Regions from separate parts of the Homo sapiens genome. Here regions 1, 3, 4, 5, 6 and 7 are each reported to be linked to region 2. Evidence: microRNA targets listed by miRTarBase, many of them from high-throughput screens and not tested one by one. Region 2 holds a microRNA gene; each other region holds the end of a gene's coding sequence. Distances are from middle to middle.

Evidence for each region. The annotated mature microRNA hsa-miR-149-3p reads AGGGAGGGACGGGGGCUGUGC and lies in region 2 at 959-979, shown strand. An mRNA with a match to its seed (bases 2 to 7 or 8) in the 3' UTR can be bound and repressed. Matches are read on the target gene's strand: a 7mer-m8 pairs with bases 2 to 8, a 7mer-A1 pairs with bases 2 to 7 and ends in A, and an 8mer does both.
Region 1: the mRNA of METTL14 is a reported target of hsa-miR-149-3p. The part of its 3' UTR that is shown has no 7-base or 8-base seed match.
Region 3: miRTarBase lists DNAH17 as a target of hsa-miR-149-3p. The part of its 3' UTR that is shown has no 7-base or 8-base seed match.
Region 4: the mRNA of PJVK is a reported target of hsa-miR-149-3p. Seed matches in the 3' UTR shown: 7mer-A1 at 720-726.
Region 5: the mRNA of C8orf82 is a reported target of hsa-miR-149-3p. Seed matches in the 3' UTR shown: 7mer-m8 at 2,433-2,439, 8mer at 2,291-2,298, 7mer-m8 at 2,084-2,090 and 7mer-m8 at 1,916-1,922.
Region 6: the mRNA of NDUFA7 is a reported target of hsa-miR-149-3p. Seed matches in the 3' UTR shown: 7mer-A1 at 587-593.
Region 7: the mRNA of RAB1B is a reported target of hsa-miR-149-3p. Seed matches in the 3' UTR shown: 8mer at 497-504.

Annotation. Positions count from the first base shown.
Region 1 is chr4:118,709,946-118,713,022 of GRCh38, forward strand. It overlaps METTL14 (methyltransferase 14, N6-adenosine-methyltransferase non-catalytic subunit), which reads left to right. Exons shown (of 11, transcript NM_020961.4): 11 at 53-3,077. The coding sequence ends at 357. Among named protein-coding and RNA genes, the nearest start is that of METTL14, 26 kb to the left of the region's middle.
Region 2 is chr2:240,455,098-240,458,174 of GRCh38, forward strand. MIR149 (microRNA 149) reads left to right here and starts at 904; the gene lies at 904-992. All of the region lies in intron 1 of GPC1 (glypican 1), which reads left to right. GPC1-AS1 (GPC1 antisense RNA 1) reads right to left here and starts at 1,603. Exons shown (of 3, transcript NR_161169.1): 1 at 1,500-1,603. RefSeq lists enhancers at 204-854, 2,807-3,077.
Region 3 is chr17:78,420,995-78,424,060 of GRCh38, reverse strand. DNAH17 (dynein axonemal heavy chain 17) reads left to right here. Exons shown (of 81, transcript NM_173628.4): 81 at 1-364. The coding sequence ends at 155. All of the region lies in intron 9 of PGS1 (phosphatidylglycerophosphate synthase 1), which reads right to left. Among named protein-coding and RNA genes, the nearest start is that of PGS1, 44 kb to the right of the region's middle. RefSeq lists an enhancer at 932-1,511.
Region 4 is chr2:178,461,118-178,464,194 of GRCh38, forward strand. It overlaps PJVK (pejvakin), which reads left to right. Exons shown (of 7, transcript NM_001042702.5): 7 at 1-985. The coding sequence ends at 157. It overlaps FKBP7 (FKBP prolyl isomerase 7), which reads right to left. Exons shown (of 4, transcript NM_181342.3): 4 at 2,547-3,077. Among named protein-coding and RNA genes, the nearest start is that of PJVK, 11 kb to the left of the region's middle.
Region 5 is chr8:144,524,738-144,527,804 of GRCh38, forward strand. C8orf82 (chromosome 8 open reading frame 82) reads right to left here. Exons shown (of 3, transcript NM_001001795.2): 3 at 996-3,050. The coding sequence ends at 2,605. It overlaps LRRC14 (leucine rich repeat containing 14), which reads left to right. Exons shown (of 4, transcript NM_014665.4): 4 at 1-435. LRRC24 (leucine rich repeat containing 24) reads right to left here and starts at 2,296. Exons shown (of 5, transcript NM_001024678.4): 1 at 2,223-2,296; 2 at 79-296. The coding sequence starts at 237. RefSeq lists enhancers at 1-576, 1,309-2,165, 3,023-3,067 and silencers at 1-64, 2,091-2,480.
Region 6 is chr19:8,308,813-8,311,889 of GRCh38, reverse strand. It overlaps NDUFA7 (NADH:ubiquinone oxidoreductase subunit A7), which reads left to right. Exons shown (of 4, transcript NM_005001.5): 4 at 295-606. The coding sequence ends at 385. Among named protein-coding and RNA genes, the nearest start is that of CD320, 2.0 kb to the right of the region's middle. RefSeq lists an enhancer at 2,704-3,077.
Region 7 is chr11:66,276,054-66,279,124 of GRCh38, forward strand. RAB1B (RAB1B, member RAS oncogene family) reads left to right here. Exons shown (of 6, transcript NM_030981.3): 6 at 1-1,439. The coding sequence ends at 185. CNIH2 (cornichon family AMPA receptor auxiliary protein 2) reads left to right here and starts at 2,122. Exons shown (of 6, transcript NM_182553.3): 1 at 2,122-2,484. The coding sequence starts at 2,404. It overlaps LOC107984340 (a long non-coding RNA gene), which reads right to left and starts at 2,472. Exons shown (of 2, transcript XR_001748274.1): 1 at 2,442-2,472. RefSeq lists a silencer at 1,898-2,227.

The sequences.
Region 1 (3,077 bases), not on the chromosome of region 2:
AATAAGAGAGAATTGCAAATAAAAAGTATAATCTTTTTTTCCTCCATTTCAGGCTGGCTCACAGTTGGACCAACGCTTACAAATAGCAACTACAATGCAGAAACATATGCATCCTATTTCAGTGCTCCTAATTCCTACTTGACTGGTTGTACAGAAGAAATTGAGAGACTTCGACCAAAATCGCCTCCTCCCAAATCTAAATCTGACCGAGGAGGTGGAGCTCCCAGAGGTGGAGGAAGAGGTGGAACTTCTGCTGGCCGTGGACGAGAAAGAAATAGATCTAACTTCCGAGGAGAAAGAGGTGGCTTTAGAGGGGGCCGTGGAGGAGCACACAGAGGTGGCTTTCCACCTCGATAATTGTTGAAGACATTGAACCTATTCATCCTCCTCTAACCTTCTTTATTGTAATTAAATTTCAAGTGGGAGACTTAACTTTAGAACTCACTTCCAGCTTGCACTTTGCTTTAATTTCTCTGAGCTGCAAGAATGTCTTAGCGAGCCTTGCTTGCAGTTGTCACACACACTGTCTGGTTTTTTTCAGGATAAATGAATGATTCTGCCTTTTGTTATGTGCGTGAACAGAATGGAACAACTCAAGTAGCTTCATCTTCAGAGACTGAATTTATTCTGATAGACTTCAGCTAATTACAAAGGATTTTGCTAATTTTTGGGAATAAATAATGGAAAAAGATCCAGTCTGTGGTATCATGCTAGTGCTGACAGGGCCTTGATAGAATAGAGTTGGAAAAGATGGTAAGCTTTTGTCAGGGTTTTAACATTTTCTTGATGAAACAATAAAAAGAGGTAAGCTTTTTTCTTCTTTTTTTTTAAGTTTTAAATAAACTCAGATATAATTTGAATACTGAAGAAATTAAGAGACTTTGAACAAAAACTCTTCCCAAATCTAAATTTGATAGGGGAGGTGGAGATTCCAGGGGTGGGTGAAAGAAGAGATAGAACTTAGCAGGCAGACTTAAAAAAAAAAAAAAAGTTTATCATCATAATCTCAATTTTGTGGCTATGACTCCTAATCACGCTTCCTAAGAAGCAAAGGAGGACAAATATTCATGTGCTAGATAGCACTGTGGTGTGGACTTGAACTTGGATTGACCTTAAATTTTATATTCCTCAAATAAAAGAGAGGCAGCGACAAGATACCTCATTATCAGATGCTTGGTTTATACATTTTGGGACTAAAATACTTGGTGATGAAATGACATACACCTTTAAACTTGTTATGGAGATAGTTTAATGTAAAACCAACTACGGAAAACCCTCAACTTAAGGATACAGCTTGGAAATTGGAACTGCAATTGCCTTTTATTAAAACCATATGGTGTGATGTTTGTTTTTAAAATTATATAAGACTTTATGCTGTCACTTCTCTTGCTGTACTGTAATTCATGTTTTAAATGAATTTGATAATGAAATTATACTATTATCATTCTTGATGAATACTTTTCTTATTTTTATGATTTTTCTAATGAAACTTTAAACTTTTGAGATTTGAGAGTCTGTTTTCTATAAGTAGAATTACTGTTGTTACAAAATGAAAAAGGACTGACCTAAAATCAGTCTCTTCTTTTGGTCTGTGATGGATTTTAATGGCCGTTCTGTGCTCATATATACCTAAGATGAGATTATATTACATCCACCAAAGACTCAGTTTGAAGATAAGGAATGAGTGATAGAAGAAATAAGGCTGAGATCCTTAAAAGCCTAATTAATTTAACTCGCTTAACCCATTAGTACTATCTAGTACAAGACCCCTTTTTTTTTGCTGAAATTATGGTATATTTTCAACTTCACTAATTACAAATTATCTAGATTTAGAACTCTATATGTCAGCATTGACCTGGGAATGAAGTCAGGATAGAGAAATTCCACTTGCCTGTGATGGGTCCTTAGAAGTATCAGCTAAGGAGTGACCCTGTCCTATACACAGGGCTCTCTATTACGTTCCATACCCTGGGCCTACCCAAGGTGACATTCCTGCTGTTTACATGGCATAGGCACCTGTGAGATCAGTGTCACAATTTCATCTTAGAAAGAGGTAGGTATGGCTGCTTTGTCGGTTGAAAGTTAAGGGGAGCCATGATCTACCATATTTAGGAAAAAGTTATTTAAAAAAGAGCAGATGGTGGAAAAAGAATGTAAGACCCAGAATTTATCCCTTTGACAATGAATCTGGCCTTTTTAATAGCAGGATGGAATTGATTCACTAGTTTTTGCTAACTTTCACTTTCAGTAAAGGTTGAGGTGTTGTTTTTGCAATGACTGTGTATTCATTGAGGAAAGGTTTCCAATGAAATTTCATTACTCTGACCTCTTCTAATTTTTGGTCTTCTTTATATTTACATGTCTTACATTCCACAAAATTATTTAGAAATGCTGGGCATGGTGGCTCATGCCTGTAATCCCAGCACTTTGTGAGGCCGATGTGGGTGGATCACTTGAGGTCAGGAGTTTGAGACCAGCCTGACCAATATGGAGAAATCCCATCTCTACTAAAAATACAAAATTAGCTGGGCGTGGTGGCATGTGCACGCCTGTAATCCCCGCTACTCGGGAGGCTGTGGCAGGAGAATTGCCTGAACCCAGGAGGCGGAGGTTGCAGTGAGCCGAGATTGTGCCACTGCACTCCAGCCTGGGCGACAGAGTGAGACTCTGTCTCAAAAAAAAAAAAAAAAATTGTATAGAAATAAATTTTTAGTTGCTTTATGCACTAATTCCTTACTGGGGATAGAAGCTAATTATTGTGAAATAACCTAGTTTAGAAGTTAGAAGATCAGCATGTCTGAGTTTTTACAGAATTATAATTCATGGTATTCCAAACCAACTGTTGTTATTTATTTCCAGTGAGAACCATTTTCCCACTGACCTTCCTCCTTTCAGAGGATGGGGATTAGGAGGCCCAAAGTACTGATTGAGTAGGAATACTTTTTTACTCTTCTTCACTGTGGAGAAAGAAGAGGGCAGGTAGTTGATGATGTCAGGAGAACAGATTTTATGGTGTGGAATACCATACCTAAACACAAATGAATCAGATTAGACCACAGAATTGTGATGATGGCAGT
Region 2 (3,077 bases):
GGGGAAGATGGAACGAGACAGCAGCTGCCTACGAGCCAGGGAGCAAGAGCTCTGTGCTTTAACCTGAGGAGCAGGAGCCTGGGAACTGGAGACTCTGGGTTTGAGGTGGGGGATGAATCTGCCATTAAACAAATAATCCCCTTCCCCCCCAAAAAAATCCTCAGAGCACTGGGGAAGGGAAGTGTCCCAGTGACTGAGGGAGGGGAGCGCTGTGGAAGGATGGGTCGGCTACAGCAACTTCAGCCCAGGGATCAGGGAAGAGAGGGTCCAGTCCCTGGCCCAGCGGGGAGCAGGCCCGGTGACCTTGACCTGAGCAGCCCCAGGGCCAGAGGGAGGGGTGGGCCGGAAGGGCCCAGATGCCTCCCTGCACGGGGGGAAGGGGATGGGCTGCCGGGACTCACCCCCTAGGTTGGAAAATGCCTCCCTCTGGGTTGGAGGAGGAGAAAGGCCAGGAAGGAGAGGGAGAGGGACATGGGGAGGGTTCCCTCCTGGCCTGAGGCCTCTCTATCCCCAGGTGTTGAGCTGAGAGAAGTGGTGGGGAGGCCCCTGGGGGTGGGGAGGCCCCTGGGTGGGGAGATTTAAGATGACAGCTGGTCTTGGGCACATTGCTCTCCATTCAGAAAGGCCCCAGCCCCTGGCATTCTTCCAGGAGGGGGCTTGCTTTGCCGCCCTGCAGGGGGACTCTGCAGAGCCGGCCTCTGCCATCTCATGTCCAGGACCACAACCTGTGGCCCCGGCCTGCGCCGGGCCGGAGCTCCGCAGAAGGAAGCCAGCGGGAGGCCTCCTGCCTTTGACTGCCGTGCGTCCAGCCTGCAGCGGGCCTCAGGGGGCCGCCTCGATCCAGCCTGCCCGAGGCTCCCAGGCCTTCGCCCGCCTTGCGTCCAGCCTGCCGGGGGCTCCCAGGCCGGCGCCCGAGCTCTGGCTCCGTGTCTTCACTCCCGTGCTTGTCCGAGGAGGGAGGGAGGGACGGGGGCTGTGCTGGGGCAGCTGGAACAACGCAGGTCGCCGGGCCGGCTGGGCGAGTTGGCCGGGCGGGGCTGAGGGGTCGGCGGGGGAGGCTGAGGCGCGGGGGCCGGTGCGCGGCCGTGAGGGGGTGTGAGAGGTGGCTGACGGCGCCGAGGAGCCCCTCAGAACCTGCAGGTGGGGGGAGCTCCCATATCTTACGGGTGTTTCGGGCCTCACCTCTCCATGCCTCTCGTCAGCCTCTCCCGTCTGCGTGGTGGGGGCTGGGGAGTGGGTCCGCCGGGACCTCGCGAGGGAGGGGCACAGGAGGAGCCGGCGGGGGACGCCACCCACCCTCCTCCCTAGGAGTGCTTGAGCCCTAGTCCTGAGTCTTGGACCAGCTCACTCGGTTCCTGTGGCCCAGCCAGCCTGGCCTGGGTGCCCCGTCACAGCTGAGCCCATCTCAGCTGAGCCCAGGGTGTGTCACCGGGAAGCTCAGCTGGCACCTGCCACCCCCTCCCCCAGGCACGTTTCCCTCCCACTGCCCAGCCCATTACCATCATGTGTCCGGCTGACCTGTGCTCTCCTGGTCTGGGCAGCCTGGATGGGTGCACAGGGCCCCATCACAGCCCACACCCTCGGAGAGACGCCTCCTGAGTCTGCTCAGCCTGGCACAGGCCCCAGGAAAGGACCCGGAGGGGCGGTTCCTGCTCTAAATCCTGCCCCCACGGGGGTGGGACTGGGGCAGAATCCCATCAGTGAATAAAGGCTGCAGAGTGAAGGATGGTCCCTGGCGAGTGTACCTGTGTCCCAGTCTTCTTGCCTGAGGGCGCCTTCCCACCCATGTGAGGAGTGGGGAAGGAGCACCCCTTCTCTACTAGGCCCCAGGGCTCTCAGAGCCGGGCTCTGTCCTCACCCCAGCTGGCTCCCACAAGGCCCTCCTGGCCCCAGACTCTGTTGGACCCCCAACTCCCCCTCCAGCAGGCATCTGGAGGTAAGGAGGGGCGGGGGGCGCAGGTGCACTTGCCATTCCCGCTCTGTCTGCAGCATGGGCACATGTAAGTCCAGGCCCTGGGGAATCCCTGGACCTGCAGCCCCTGCGGAGGACTCCCTCCCCCTCTAGCTCAAGCCAGAGCCCCCTGCATCAGTACATTCCAGAACTCAGACAGGAAAAGAGGGCAAGGAGGGAGCGCTCCAGGATAAGAACCCCTACCTCGGCCCTCCCTCGCTCTCCCAGGCCCCTCTGACAACCTGTCTCCTTGCTGTCATGTCAGCAGGCACAGAGGCTACAGGGGCCAAGCGGCAGCCGCCCAAGCCCGGATTCGGGTTCTCTGTTCCCTTCTCTTGTCTCGGGCTCCTCCCTGAGTGTGTGTACTTAGAGGGTGCGGAAGATCAGCAAACTCAGTCTGACCCAGGCATTCAACCTCTGGGTAGTTACCTAGTCCTGGGTCCCCACCCCAGATGGCCTCTAGTGGGTAAGGGCTTCCTGGACCCCAGGCCTGAGGGGTGACTTCTCTTGCAGTAAGCGGGTAGGGCACTGCCTGCGCTGCTCCAGGCCCTGCCTGCAGTGGGGCTACAGATCCCTGCTCCCACCTCCAGGCAGGGCTGGAGCTGCTGCCAGCTCCCCCAGGACAGCCTCGAGCCAGGTGCCTCTGCCCGGGCTGACCCCGCCCTCGGTCCCGGTCCTGGCTCCCTCTCCTGCCTCTCCTCCCTGGCCTGGCCTTCACTTCCTGCTGACCCTCAGGAGGGCGTAAAAGAATGCAGGACCTGCTGCATTCCAGCCACCCTGGCCCAGGGTCCCAGAACAGGATGAGACAGGCCCCTGAGGCGGCAGTCCTGAGGAAAGTTGCTGGAATTCCTGCTGACAACGCCCCCCCTTGACCCCACCCCTCTGACCAAGCCAGGCTCCTGCTTCCACCTCTCCACTGTGCCTGACCTAGGCCAGCACCAGGAGGGCCTTAGAGGCGGGGGACGAGGCCCAGAAGGAACAGTGTGGCCCCGTCAGTGTGGAGTCCTGAGCTTAGGCAGCCGGAACCACTTGCCCCCTCACTGTATAGCTGGGACGAGACCTCATCCCTGTAAGCCCCGGTTTTCTGGTTAATAAAATGAGGATTGCGGCAGCCTTCATCACAGTG
Region 3 (3,066 bases), not on the chromosome of region 2:
CTGTGGACCGCATGGAGACCAAGAACATCTATGAGTGTCCCGTGTACAAAACACGCATCCGCGGCCCCACCTATGTCTGGACCTTTAACTTGAAGACCAAAGAGAAGGCAGCGAAGTGGATCCTGGCAGCCGTGGCGCTGCTCCTACAGGTTTAGCTCGCTCCTGCCTCACAGCCCACACTCCCTGGGGCTGGACCACAACTCAGCCCTTCACCTGTGCACCTGTGACTTATTCTTTACAGGAACTGGTGGTGGTTTTTCGTTCTCTTAAATAATCAGGTGCTTTGTAACCAAGCACATCGGAACCAGAGGGTGGAGGTTGGTGTGGAAGAGGTGGGGCAGATTAAAGCCAGTGGAGCCACTCAGCTGTGCCCATCCATTCTGTGCCTGATGGCCACTGTGAGGCCTGGTTCAGGCTTTGGGGAAAGGCCCCAATTCCCAGCAGCCAGAGGCAAGCATTCCAGGAAGTAAATCCCAAATCCTGACTTCCCGGGGGGGTCAGTGGAGTTTGCTTTTAACAGGAGCAGCATGTGGGGTGAGGGCTTGGCACTCACACCCTCTGGCCTGATGCTTCATGCAAACCACCTGCCAATGAGGGGACAGGGCGTTACCCCATACCAGGAGCTGCCGCCTCCACACAGCGTCTCATCCGCCATTACTCCCTGCTCCCAAAAACAACAGGACCTTTTACAAGTAAGGAAACACACCCAAGCCCCCGCCCCCAGAGTCTAGAAGAACAAGCCGTTCCCACAAGCAAGCCCCGGACCTGTAGGACTCTGTGGCTGGGCTGATGCAGGACACGGCAGTGAGGTGGCCAGGCTAGCTAGGGCAGCAGGGTGCAGGCACGAGGGGAGAGAATTAACTAGCAACCTGGGGGATGAGGGGAGACAGCGGCAAACGTCAGAAAAGACGGATCCCAGGGGGACCAAGACAGGATCAACATTTTTTTTTTTTTTCGAGGGAGAGTGAGAGTTTCACTCTTGTCGCCCAGGCTGGAGTGCAATGACGCAATCTCGGCTCACGTTGCAACCTCCACCTCCTGGGCTCAAGCGATTCTCCTGCCTCAACCTCCCAAGTAGCTGGGGTTACAGGCACCCACCACCACACGCAGCTAATTTTTTTATTTTTAGTAGAGATGGGGTTTCACCATGTTGGCCAGGCTGGTCTCAAACTTCTAACCTCAGGTGATTCACCAACCTCGGCCTCCCAAAGCGCCAGGATTACAGGTGTCAACCACTGTGCCCGGCCCTCAACATTTCTCAGGCTTCAAAGAAAAGCAGGCCGCTGCAGCAGCTCACGCCTCTAATCCCAGGACGGCAATCTTACTTGAGCCCAGGAGTTTAAGACCAGCCTGGGCAACGTGGCAAAACCATCTCTATCAATCAAAAATACAAAAAATTAGCTGGGAATGTTGTATGTGCCTGTGGTCCCAGCTACTCAGGAGGCTGAGGCAGGAGGGTCGCTTGAGCCCATGAGGTCAAGTACGCAGCGAGGCATGATCATGCCACTCACTCCAGCCTGGGTGACAGAGTGAGACCCTGTCTCAAAAGGGGGAAAAAAGGCAAACACACCCATTAGGAATATCGTTCTACGTTCAGCTTGATCATCAAGTTTTGCAAAAACATTTTTCCAAGTTTACTCACCTAAATCATGGGTTAAGAAGCATCTAGAAAGTCCAAATTCTGAGGGTAATGATTCACAACAATCTTAGCGCCCAGTAGGGCTATCGGAGGGAAAAGAAAAATCCTCCCCTCCTGGCGCCCAAGGAATCCAGCCCTTTGTGGCTGCAGAGAAGGGAAGCAGTTTCAGCCTCCCCCAGCCTGGCTGGGCCAATACCTCTGCTGGCCAGGAGGGGTCACTGCAGCCCTTCAGGTGACCAGGGGAGCTAAAGCCACCAGGGGCCACCGGGCAACTCACTTCAGTCCCTGGTAATAACCACAAAATGTGACGTTTTTCCATTTTGCCTTTAGATCCTGAAATAAGAAAGTAATCTAGTCCACACATACATATTGTGGGTAGTTGACAAAATTATCTCTAAACTTTCCAAGAAATGATTCGCACTTAAGCTGCACTCCAGCGACGGGGAACACAGGGACTGGAACACGACAGCCCCGCGCACCTAGAAAGCCGGGAGGACTGCGGCGGCCGCCGCCCGCCGCCCGCTGCTCTCTGTTGCTCCGGCTGCTTTGCAGAGTTAGGGAGGCTTGGTGTGGGGAGCTCCTCAGGGAGAACCTGCCTAGGACAGCCTCGAAGGTCATCAGCAGAGACAGAGGGAGCAGTGTGCGCTGCGGGAACGGCACTGCAGATAGATTGCTTAAGCCTGGCTGTGGCATAATGATATTTACTCTGGTCCCACAGAATCTGGAGGAATGCGAACTCTGTTTACCGAGAGCCTCTCTCCAAACAGAAACCCAGTGCCCCTGCACATTCCTTTGGCTCCTCCAGTCTAATTGTCCCACAGGACACCGTAATAACTAGTTGGAAGGCAAACAGTGTTAACTGATGTGATGTGCTGCTGTCCAGGGCACTGTGGCCAGGCCGCCGCTCCACCTATCCCCAGCCACTCAAACTGCAGGTCTGCCTGGTGCGGAAGCTGCAACTGTCCTTGTCTAAGACCAGGTGAGCCTATGCAACCTTTCAGACCCCATGAAGGGTGACAGTGACTCCTGCCAGCCCTCGGGAGGGAAAGGCGAGAAGCTGCTTCTAGAGAGGCAAAGTGCAGGGACTAAATCTAATCTCACTCCCCGAAAGGACAGGCTGCCATGCCCTGTAGCCCAGGAAGCTTCTCTCTGTGCAAGGGTCAAGCACCTGAAGATGATAAAGAGATCAGGCAGTGAGGTCACAAAAGCAGCTCCTGGAGACACTGGGGGATATGGAGAGCTGGCTTTATAAACACACATGACATGTATTCAAAATCCCCTGCTACTAGGTGACACAAAAATGTTTTAAGTAGATCCAATAAAAATAAAGTTCATTCTTCAAAAAATAAATTGCTAGGGAAAAAACAATCACAAGGTGTAGTCCTTAATTGGACTTCAAGTCAAATAATCGAAAAAATTAATTTTAA
Region 4 (3,077 bases), 62 Mb from region 2:
TCACAACATTCCCAAAGGGCCTTGCATACTCTGTGGAATGGGGAACTTCAAAAGGGAGACAGTTTATGGGTGCTTTCAGTGTTCTGTTGATGGTCAGAAGTATGTGAGACTTCATGCAGTTCCTTGTTTTGATATTTGGCACAAGAGGATGAAATAAAATGAAAAATGAATACACCGTGTTGGTGTTTTAGGTGCAGTTGTGCCACAAACCTTCCCTAAATTATCTAGGTTTGCTTTGATGAATTAAATTAAAATGAGAAAAGCAAAAAGAAATTAACCTGTCTGGGTATCATATTCCCTATCTATAAAGTAGCAATTATAACAGTAGTGTCTATTTCTTAAGTTGTCATGAAAATTAATAACATTGTTTATATCAAAAAAGATTTACATATAAAATTCAGAGATTATGAATCATGCCAGTCACTTTAGAATCATTTTTGGGATGTAGTCTATCATTTTAGTTCACCTTTTTTTTTTTTTTTTTTGAGACAGAGCCTTGCTCCGTCACCCAGGCTGGAGTACAGTGGCATGATCTCAGCTCACTGCAACCTCTGCCTCCTGGGTTCAAGCAATTCTCTGCCTCAGCCTCCCGAGTAGCTGGGATTACTGGCGCCTGCCACCACGCCTGGCTAATTTTTTGTATTTTTAGTAGAGACAGAGTTTTACCATCTTGGCCAGGCTGATCTTGAACTCCTGACCTTGTGATCCACTTTCCTCGGCCTCCCAAAGTGCTGGGATTACAGGCATGGGCCACCGTGCCTGGCCTAGATAACTTTTTATATAATTAAGAGATTTTTGTAAATACCAATTTTATTTTCAATCAACTTTCAGTTCAATATGTAAGGATGACAAGACTGCACAAGTAGCAACTTTTGGTGTTTCAACTATTGCCTTTGGTCTGGTAAAATGAGAAAAATGTGTTAATAATTTAATGCAATCTTAAATGTTTAATTGCAGTATCAAATTAAAAGCACACTGAACTCAACATGGGGTTTTGTGTACACAGTTAACAAGGTGACTGATAGTAGTAATGGGCTGCCATTCTATGATGTGGATATGCTCACGAGTTTTGTCTTCATAAAACGCAATACGGTCATTGTGAAGTTAAGACAGGTAAGACACATCTGTTTCTTTGAAAATGTTTAAAACATTTAACATATTCAATTCTGAAAGATCTTTTTAATCTACTCTGCTGAGAAATCTGAATTTTTCATACACAAACAACCTAAATTACTATTTACCTTTATTAAAATAATTATAAAATGAATAAAATGTTAAAATTCTAGAACTCAAGGCAACCCCCTTTGGGTCCCTCCTTGAATGGGAGCTCTGTTTTCACTTTATTTCACTGTCTTAAATCTTGCAACTGCACTCTTCTGGTCCATGTTTGTTAAGGCTCGAGCTGAGCTTTTGCTCGCCGTCCACCACTGCTGTTTGCCACCGTCACAGACCCGCTGCTGACTCCCATCCCTCTGAATCTGGCAGGGTGTCCGCTGTGCTCCTGATCCAGTGAGGCGCCCATTGCCGCTCCTGATCAGGCTAAAGGCTTGCCATTGTTCCTGCACGGCTAAGTGCCTGGGTTCGTCCTAATTGAGCTGAACACTAGTCACTGGGTTCCACGGTTCTTTTCTGTGACCCATGACTTCTAATAGAGCTGTAACACTCACTGCATGGCCCAAGATTCCATTCCTTGGAATCCGTGAGGCCAACAACCCCAGGTCAGAGAACACGGGGCTTGCCACCATCTTGGAAGTGGCCTGCCGCCATTTTGGAAGTCGCCCACCACCTTCTTGGGAGCTCTGGGAGCAAGGACCCCCGGTAACACTTTGGCGACCACGAAGGGACCTCCAAGGTGAATTGAAACTGTAAAACTACAAATGGTTCATCAAATGGAGCCCCAGATGCAGTCCATGACTAAGATCCACCGTAGACCCCCGGACCGGTCTCCCAGCCCATGCTCTGGTGTTAATGACATCGAAGGCACCCCTCCCAAGGAAATCTCAGCTGCACAACCCCTCCTATGCCCCAGTTCAGCAGGAAGCAGTTAGAGCAGTCATCGGCCAACCTCCCCAATAGCACTTGGGTTTTCCTGTTGAGAGTGGGGACTGAGAGGACTAGCTGGATTTCCTAGGCCGACTAAGAATCCCTAAGCCTAGCTGGGAAGGTAACTACATCCATCTTTAAACATGGGGCTTGCAACTTAGCTCACACCCAACCAATCAGAGAGCTCACTAAAATGCTAATTAGGCAAAAACAGGAGGTAAAGAAATAGCCAATCATCTATTGCCTGAGAGCACAGCGGGAGGGACAAGGATCAGGATATAAATCCAGGCATTCCAGCCAGCAATGGCAACCCCCTTTGGGTCGCCTCCTTGTATGGGAGCTCTGTTTTCACTCTATTTCACTCTATTAAATCTTGCACCTGCAAAAAAAAAAAAAAAAAAAAATTCTAGAACTCAAAATGTAGTCACAGCACTCAATGCCACATATATGCATATGAAGGCATAAGGCAATCATGCAGATATATGAAATACTTGTACACTGTATTGTATGTAGAATGATTATAAATTTATTTTTAATTATGTAAATACAAGTTTTAGAATGAATCATCTTCCTATTCATGTGGCATTATCTGTCATTTTTTAAAAACAAGTTTAAAAGCACTTTGTATGATAATGGGACAAAAAAATTAGAATTACAAAGTTTAGATTATAGGGTGACTTCTTAATATGGATACAAAAAATTGAGACAGGTTCCAAACCAAAATAAAGAATATTGAGTTACTTAGTTTACTTCAACGGAGCAGGTTTTTTTGAGGGAAGGCGATGAAAGAGTAAATGATTAAGCATGTGAAAAAGTATTAGAAAATTGAGCATAGAAATGAAGAAATATTGGGAGGAAGGAAAAGATAGTACAGATTCTTGTTTTATAAGGTGTCAAATTATGTGCTAGCCATATGTATTATTTACTAATCTCATGGTTGTGTTACCCCTATGTATACTTTTGTTTGTTTTTGTATGTACTCATCTGAAAGCCCTCTATTTTTAAATAGAATTTTTGATAGTGTAAAGAAGTTA
Region 5 (3,067 bases), not on the chromosome of region 2:
GGAGGCGCTTACCCCGTTGCGGGGGTCTTCCTCTCCCTGGGGGCACCCCGTCCTCCCGCAGCTCCACACGGTGCCCACCTGCGTCCCTGGCGGGATTCCCAGCGGGACGACGCGCAACCGCAGGGCGCCACACTCCACCGTGGCGCTGTAGCAGCGGCAGGCTGCTGGGCAGCCGGCGGCGCGGAGCGGCAGTAGTAGCAGCAGCAGCGGCAGCAGTGCGGGGGCCCTCAGGGCCATCTCCCGAGGCCCGGTTCCTCACCGGCCCTTCCGCGGTTCAGCCGCAGACGCGTGCCCTCCTGAAACACAGGTTGGCAGGCCAGTCTCGGCAGTCGAGAGCCAGCCAATAGATGGAATGGAGGCCTGCACCTGCGTCTAACTTTTGACGCTATAAATAGGTTCAAGAAACTAATAAAACGTTCTGGTTTTCTCCTTTGACAAAAACATTTTCTTAAAGCTCTGGGGCATCAGGTTCAAATTTAGAATTCCTGGTGTCCTCAGTGTCTTCACAGGATGTGACCATGTAGGGAGAGCCACCCAACCCTGTCACCTTCTCCTTCTCCACCCATGCCCAGCAGGTCAGGAGCTTCCTGCTCAGGACGTGGATGTGTGTCGCTTGCTGCCCCCGACTCTACCCCCAGGCAAGTGGCTGCTGCTTGGTTCTAGGGTGCAAGAAGCTGGAAGTACAGGGTATGGCTTGAGAACTTTGCTTAGGTGACAAAGCCCGGGGTCCCATTACCCAAGCATGGCTAGGAGGGGGAGAGCAGGCCCTGGGCAGACACGCCTCCTTGTTATCCTGTGGGGGCCTGGGCAGAGCTGGCCTCAGAGGAGCTACGAGCCCCAGGGAAGTCAAGGCACAGCTTTGTCCAGCACCTGCTCCTGCTGGCCTAGGGGTGGGACCAGCTTAACTAGAATTGGGCCTTTTTCTCAGGTAACCTGTCAGAGAATTGGGGGATGAGAAAAATAATAGGAAATTCGGTTCAGGAGCCATGGGTCTGTGCTTCCCATGCCGGTCCCCAGAAAGGTGTCCTGTCTTTGGGGATAGATGGGGCCCTGGGAAAGCTGGGGTGGGACAGGGGACGCCTTGGGCCACCAACTGGGTTTCTGGTGTGGCTTCCCAAGTGGGCTCTGGGAGCAGTGTGACCTCTGAGATCAGCAAGGAGCAGGGAGTTTGCTGGGGGACCATATACATGTACTTGTCGTAAAGAAATGGGAAGGCTGGGGTCTGGTTTCAGGAACAAGGAGCCCAGTTTTAAAAGTAGGGATCTGGGCTAAGCCAGCCAGCCCACCCGAAGCCAGGGAAAACAGGGCTGCAGGTGTCCTGTCTCCCAGCCTCATCTGGCCGGCCTCCCCAAACATTTGCCTGTCCATCAGCTCTTCCTCCTTTCGAGTCATGTGGAAAGGGACAGGACCAAGTGGCCTTGGTGTTTAAATCTTGCCCTAAATTGTAACTCACATGATTATTTAAAGTCACTAGAAATAAGTAAGCACAGCAATAAAGTTTTAATGGAATAGCTTTGGCCCAGGCAGAGGCAGTTCCCAGATGTCTCAGGACGCGTGTGAACCCCAAGAAGTTGGGGGCGTTATCTGGGCCCTTGGGATCCATTCCCCTGGGTATAAAGTGTTGGTACGTGGCTCCAGGCCTGGCCCACTCAGCCTCCCCCAGGAAGGCTTCTCAAGTGGAGAAGGTTCTTGGCCTCAGAACTCACGGCGCTGCTGCTCACGCTGACCCCCCACTAGATGCAGATCGGTGTAGAAAGGCCTGCCAGGGCAGGGATGAGGGCCCCAAGCTGGAAGCAGCCCAGAAATCCTTTTACCAGAGGACAACTCCCTAATCCGCTGGGCAGGGGCGGGGTGTCACACGCAGGATTCCGCGACGACTGTCACTGCCTCCTGGGCGCCCCTCTGTGCGGGAGCGGGGAGGGAAGAGGATGGAACGCCCTGTGTCTGCCTCGGGCGCAGTGCGAGGCCCAAGCTGGTCTTTGGGCGGCCCTTGCGCACCTCTGCAGCGCTGCGACCTGGTGCCTGTATCCCCCACGGCCTCCTCTGCTACCCACGAGAGCCGGTTGATTTTCGGCCGGGCTCAGGGAGGGCGTGGCCTCCGCGTTCCCCATCCCCCTCCAGGACCCACGCCCTTCTCGGAGCGCACCAGGGTCAGAGCCGGGATGGTCCCCGATCCCCCAGCGCCCCCACGCCTGGTGACCTTGGGTCGGGCGTCCCCTCACCTGACGCTCCCGCGGCGAGCGGCTCCCCCGCCGTGCAGGTGGCGGCCGGGCCCGAGCAGTCGCCGGGCTGGGAGGGGGCGGGGGACGCTCGCGCACGCGCACCAGAGCCCCGCGCCCGCCGCCAGTGCCTGACGTCTCGAGCGCAGGCCAATCCGGAGGGCGCCGGAGTCGGGTGCGCGGGGGGCGCGCGCCGTGGGGAGCGGGGTGTCCGGGAGGGCCGGGCCGCGGCAGCACCAAGGACAGCGCCGGGTGGGGGCGGGGCCGAGCGCGCAGGCGCACTAGGCTGCCGCGAGCGCGGGTGGCGCGGGCTTTCCGGGGCGTGGAGTCCCGGGGGAGCGGGGCGAGAGGCGCCCGCGGCCTCCCGCCTTTCCCTTGGCCCCGCTCAGGGCGACCGAGCCGCGAGCAGCAGCGGGGCCAGGTCCATGGTGAGGGCGAGGCGGCGGCCCTGCCAGCGCACGTGCGAGGGCAGCGCAGGCGCGCCGGGCCCGTACTCGAAGCAGGCGCTGAGCTCGAAGGCCAGGGCGGAGCGCACCAGGCCCACGCCGCCCGCACGCTCCGGCGCCGGGTGGTACAGGCGCCCGTTGGCGGCCAGGGGCAGCAGGCGCGCCGGCTCGAAGGGCACGGCCAGGGCCTCGCCACCGCCGCAGTAGGAGAGGCGCGGAGGCCCGTGGTCCGCGGTCAGCAGGTGCGTGAAGACCACCGGCCGGTCCTCGCAGCGCAGGAAGTTGCGCTCTCTGCCGCAGGGCGAGAGGAAGGGGAAAGCGGCCTCGTAGCGCCCGCTGCGGTTGGGTCTCAGGCGGGAGAAGAAGGTGACCAGGAACTGCGGGTCTGGGGGATGAAGGGTG
Region 6 (3,077 bases), not on the chromosome of region 2:
AAAAGTGGGAAGGGAGGAGCCCAGCTCTCCACAGTGGGTTCTGGGCCTGGGGGCCACAGCAGGGGGTTCATACAGGGCTCAGGGGAGAGAGGAGGCTTGCTAGCTCCCACCTGGCGTTGGCTGATCCTCTGAGGGGCTGCGTTGGAGGGGTTGGCATTCTGGAACACCCTGCTGTCTGTCCTGCAGGTCCAGAAAGTCCCTGTGGGTGTGTTTGTCCCGGGGCAGGTGTGGGCTCCCTCAGATCTTTCCACACTGTTCTTTGGAAACCCTCACTGAAGTCTTTCCCTCCTCCAGCTCTGCTGTAGCTGCCACTGAGAAGAAGGCGGTGACTCCAGCTCCTCCCATAAAGAGGTGGGAGCTGTCCTCGGACCAGCCTTACCTGTGACACTGCACCCTCACGGCCACCCGACTACTTTGCCTCCTTGGATTTCCTCCAGGGAGAATGTGACCTAATTTATGACAAATACGTAGAGCTCAGGTATCACTTCTAGTTTTACTTTAAAAAATAAAAAAATAGAGACAGAGTCTCACCATGTTTCCCAGGCTGATCTTGAACTCCTGGCCTCAAGCGATCCTCCTGCCTTGACCTCCCAAAGTGCTGGGATTACAGGCATGAGCCACCACACCTGGCCTGATTTTATTTTTATTTTTTAGACCTTCCCACTGAGGCCTCTGCTTGACCTTGGTCACCCTGTAGCTCAACGGGGAAGGCAAAGGACAGTGAGGGCTGCTTACAGGGAAGGCAGACCTAGGGCAGATCAGGAAAGGCCTCCCTGAGCCAGAAACCATTATGCTGGGGCTGTGGGATGAGAATGAGTTAGCTCCAGAAGGAAGGCAGCTGGTTCCTGGGGAGGAGATAGAAATCTGGCTGCAGGAGCCAGAGTTTTCGCGCTTGTCACCCAGGCTGGAACGCAACGGCACGATCTCAGGTCACTGCAACCTCTGCCTCCTGGGCTCAAGCAATTCTGCCTCAGCCTCCCGAGTAGCTGGGACTACGGGTGTGCACCACCATACCCGCTAATTTTTTTTTTTTTTTGTAGAGATGGCCAGGCTGGTCTCAAATTCCTGACCTCAGGTGATCCGCCCGCCTTGGCCTCCCAAAGTGTTGGGATTACAGGTGTGAGCCACCACGCCTGGCCCCTGATTTTAAGCAATACCCAGCTTACTTGGATTTTGGGGTGAAGTCAGTGCTGAGTCTCCCAACTCTGTTGGCACTCCAGGGGTGGGACAGACACTGTCCCTGGGTGCAGAGGCCCTGGAGACAGCACTGCCCTTTCCCCCAAAGGCCAGGCTCTGACCTTGAGAGTGGTGGGAGTGGGTGATCCTTCTGGGAGGTTGGACTCCCAGGACCGCTGGCTGTTGGGGAGCATTGATTGTGAAGACCAGTCAGGTGGGGTAAGGGGTGTATGTGCGGACACTCAGTAGGCCAGCCACAGACTTCTCACTTCTTTTTTTTTTTTGAGACAGAGTTTCGCTCTTGTTGCCCAGGCTAGAGTACAATGGCGCGATCACGGCTCACTATAACCTCTGCCTCCTGGGTTCAAGTGATTCTCTTGCCTCAGCCTCCCGAGTAGCTGGGATTACAGGCGCCTGCCACAAGCCCAGCTAATTTTTGTATTTTTAGTAGAGACGGGGTTTCGCCATGTTGGCCAGGCTGGTCTCAAACTCCTGACCTCAAGTGATCCGCCCACCTCTGCCTCCCGAAGTGTTGGGATTACAGGCGTGAGCCACCGCGCCTGGCCTAACTTCCATCTCTTGAGGGCTCCCACAGCCACTTCTCACATGAACCTTCCTCAGCACCTTCCCACTGAGGCTCCTGCTTGACCATGGTCACCCTGCAGCTCAACGGGGAAGGCAGAGGACAGTAAGGGCTGCTCACAGGGAAGGCAAACCTAGGGCAGATCAGGAAAGGCCTCCCTGAGCCAGATCCCATTATGCTGGGGCTGTGGGATAAGAATGAATTCGCCCCAGAAGGAAGGCAGCTGGTTCCTGGGGAGGAGACAGAAATCTGCAAAGGGAGGGTGTCCAAGTCTGGCTGCAGGAGCCACCCAGTGACCCTACGCAGGGGAGTGTCATGGCTTCCCCAGGGCACAGCCCCAGACCCTTCAGCAGCTAAAAAAGATCAGCTGTGGACCAAGAGGGTGCTGAGACCGCCCTGCCCTCTGGAAGGGGAAAGGCCACGGCTACAGGCAGCAGGTACCAGTGTCCCAGAGTGGGTCCTACAAAGGCTAACACCTTCCTGGAGAAGGTGGGATTCTGCTTGGGGCAAAAGGATGAATCAGATTCAGAAAGGTCAGGAGGGAAGGAAAGACTAGGCAGGGTGTGCAGAGGCCACAAGGAGGGCAAGACCCTAGGCAAGGCATGCCGCTGACGGCATCTGAACCAAGTTTTATGACCACAACTTTTTTTTTTTTTTGAGACAGAGTCTCACTCTGTCACCCAGGCTGGAGTTCAATGATGTGGTCTCGGCGCACTGCAACCTCCGCCTCCCGGGTTCAAGCGATTCTCCCATCTCAGCCTCCCTAGTAGCTGGGACTACAGGAGCATGTTACCACACCCGGCTAATTTTTGTATTTTTGGTAGAGACGGGAGTTTTACTATGTTGGCCAGGCTGGTTTAGAACTCCTGACCTCGTGATCCGCCTGCCTCGGCCTCCCAAAGTGCTGGGGTTAACAGGCGTGAGCCAGCGCGCCGGCCAACTTTTCTAACAAATGGGGTCTCACTGTCACCCACGCTGGAGTGCAGCCCCAAGTGATTCTCCCACCTCAGCCTCCTGAGTAGCTGGGACTACAAATTAGAGCCACCATGCCCAGCTAATTTTCTTTTTTCTTGAGGCGGGCGGGGACTTGCTGTGTTGCCCAGGCTGATCTCGAACTCCTGGGCTCAAGCGATCTGCCCGCCTCTGCTTCCCAAAATGCTGGGATCACACACGTGACCCACCGCGCCCGGCCTTTATTATTAAATTTAATTAATTAATTGATTTCCTTTCCTTTTTCCCCCCCAAGCAACCCGACTCCGAGAATGGACGTTTCATTTATTCATTTACTCACCAAATGTTTACTAAGAGCCTACTATGA
Region 7 (3,071 bases), not on the chromosome of region 2:
ACTCTCTGGGCATCCCCTTCTTGGAGACGAGCGCCAAGAATGCCACCAATGTCGAGCAGGCGTTCATGACCATGGCTGCTGAAATCAAAAAGCGGATGGGGCCTGGAGCAGCCTCTGGGGGCGAGCGGCCCAATCTCAAGATCGACAGCACCCCTGTAAAGCCGGCTGGCGGTGGCTGTTGCTAGGAGGGGCACATGGAGTGGGACAGGAGGGGGCACCTTCTCCAGATGATGTCCCTGGAGGGGGCAGGAGGTACCTCCCTCTCCCTCTCCTGGGGCATTTGAGTCTGTGGCTTTGGGGTGTCCTGGGCTCCCCATCTCCTTCTGGCCCATCTGCCTGCTGCCCTGAGCCCCGGTTCTGTCAGGGTCCCTAAGGGAGGACACTCAGGGCCTGTGGCCAGGCAGGGCGGAGGCCTGCTGTGCTGTTGCCTCTAGGTGACTTTCCAAGATGCCCCCCTACACACCTTTCTTTGGAACGAGGGCTCTTCTGTCGGTGTCCCTCCCACCCCCATGTATGCTGCACTGGGTTCTCTCCTTCTTCTTCCTGCTGTCCTGCCCAAGAACTGAGGGTCTCCCCGGCCTCTACTGCCCTGGCTGCAGTCAGTGCCCAGGGCGAGGAATGTGGCCAGGGGATCCAGGACCTGGGATCCAGGGCCCTGGGCTGGACCTCAGGACAGGCATGGAGGCCACAGGGGCCCAGCAGCCCACCCTTTCCTCTCCCCACTGCCTCCTCTCCCTTCCTACACTCCCAGCTCGAGCCGTCCAGCTGCGGTGGGATCTGAGTATATCTAGGGCGGGTGGGCGGGTAGCAGTGCTGGGCCTGTGTCTTGAGCCTGGAGGGAGTCTGCTCCTGCCGCCCTCTGCCCTGCCAGAGACAGACCCATGCGCTGCCTGCCCACCGTGCCCCTTTGTCCCCATGTCAGGCGGAGGCGGAAGGCCCACCGTGCCAGAGGCTGGGCACCAGCCTTAACCCTCACTCTGCTAGCACCTCCTCCCTTTCCCCAAGGTAGCACATCTGGCTCACTCCCCACTCCGTCTCTGGAGCCCACCAGGGAAGGCCCTCATCCCCTGCCGCTACTTCTCTGGGGAATGTGGGTTCCATCCAGGATTGGGGGCCTCTCTGCTCACCCACTCTGCACCCAGGATCCTAGTCCCCTGCCCTCTGGCACAGCTGCTTCCTGCAAGAAAGCAAGTCTTTGGTCTCCCTGAGAAGCCATGTCCCTCGTGCTGTCTCTTGCCTGTCCCACCTGTGCCCTGCCCTCCAGCTTGTATTTAAGTCCCTGGGCTGCCCCCTTGGGGTGCCCCCCGCTCCCAGGTTCCCCTCTGGTGTCATGTCAGGCATTTTGCAAGGAAAAGCCACTTGGGGAAAGATGGAAAAGGACAAAAAAAATTAATAAATTTCCATTGGCCCTCGGGTGAGCTGAGGGTTTTTGCAAGGAAGTTGTGGTGGCCAAGTGTGGTCTGTGGTCTAAGCCCAGCCTTGGGGTGGGGGGATGGAACTGGAACCCTGGGCTTGGTGGGGTGCACGGGGGTCCTGGCTTGGTTTCTGTGTCCTAAGGCTGCTGGCAAAAGCCCTTGACCCCGTTTCCTGAGGCCAGGAAAGCTGCTTGTGCTTCTGTGGTCTGTCCCCAAGGGCCCAGCACCGTTCTGTCAGGGAAAGAGGCAGGCGGCCATCAGCTCATACCTGGCGTGCCGCCGCCAACTCCCGCGGGGCACACGGCAGAGGTGTGGGGTCGCGCAGCCGCTGAGAGGGCCCCCACTGCACCTGGCCCAACCTCCTTCAGCGCCCCCCAAAACCCCACTGCTCCCATTCAGCCCCTGTCCTGGCGTCATTGTGTGTCCCAGCCAGGTGCTTCTGCCGTCTCCGACAGTGACAAGTGCCTCGCACTTCAGCCTTTGCCCTGAGCGCCCGCCCGAGGGGGCCGAGTGCGGCTGTGCCGGTGGCTGGAGTGCCGAGGGGTGCGGGGTGCCGGGGGCGGCCGCGTCTACGCTGTCCGGAGGGTGAACGGCCGCGGGCTTGTCGGGGCTGGGGGTGGCGCCCGAGCCGGGCGGGCAGACGAGGGGCCCGCGGAGACCCAGCCCCGCCCGAGGCCGCTCGCGCGGCGGCCCCGCCCCCGGCTCCGCCCCGCCGGCTTCGCGGGCTGGAGAGCGAGGGAGCCGCGGGCGAGGGATCGCAGGATGAGCGATCGGGGCCCGGGCAGCCGGCAGCGGACGCGCCCCCCGAGCCCACCGGCCCGCGCCCCGCGCCCCCCACGGCCCCGCGGTCCCGGTCCCGGCCGCATCACCCACGTCCCCCGAGCCCCACGGGCCATGCCCGGCCGGCCCTAAGCGCGGGCCGGGGGGCGTCCCCTTGCGCCCGGGCCCCGCGCTGGCGCCCCCCGGGCCGCCGCCCGGCGCGGGGGCCATGGCGTTCACCTTCGCCGCGTTCTGCTACATGCTCACCCTGGTGCTGTGCGCCTCCCTCATCTTCTTTGTCATCTGGCACGTAAGGCCGGGCTGGGGCTGGGGCTGGGGGCGGGGTGGGGGGCAGGGGCCACGCGGAGCTGGAGGGACCCAGGGCGGGTGGTCTCAGAGCCCAGGGGAAACTTGCTATCCCCCAGCCGTCGGCTTGTCGGCTTCGCCCCCATTAACACCCCCCGTGGTCGGCTTTCTTCCCGGGGCCCCCCTTCCTCCGCCGCCCCCGCCTGTCTGTGTGTATGTCAGTCGGTCTCTGACCCCCTCCTCTGCCCTCGTCCTCTGCTCCCATGCAGCCCGTGAGGTGGGGGGTGGAATTCTGGCATTTTTGTTGCTTTATCTTCTATGTCCCCCCCCACCACCATCCAGCCGCCTCCATTAGTCCGTCGGGCAGTTTGTCTGTCTGCTGCCCCCCCCCCCCCGCCTTTGTGGGTTTTTCCAGCCAGAGTGATGGAGCTGGTTGCTATGGCAACTGCATCTGTTTACAGGACCCACAGATCTCAGAGTCCATTAACCCTTTGCCTTCCCAGCCCCCTCCCTGACCAAGCAGCAGTTGGCTCTCATCAGCCCCCAGAGACCTAGCCCCCACCACCGGCTCACCTTGGGTTTCCCTACCCC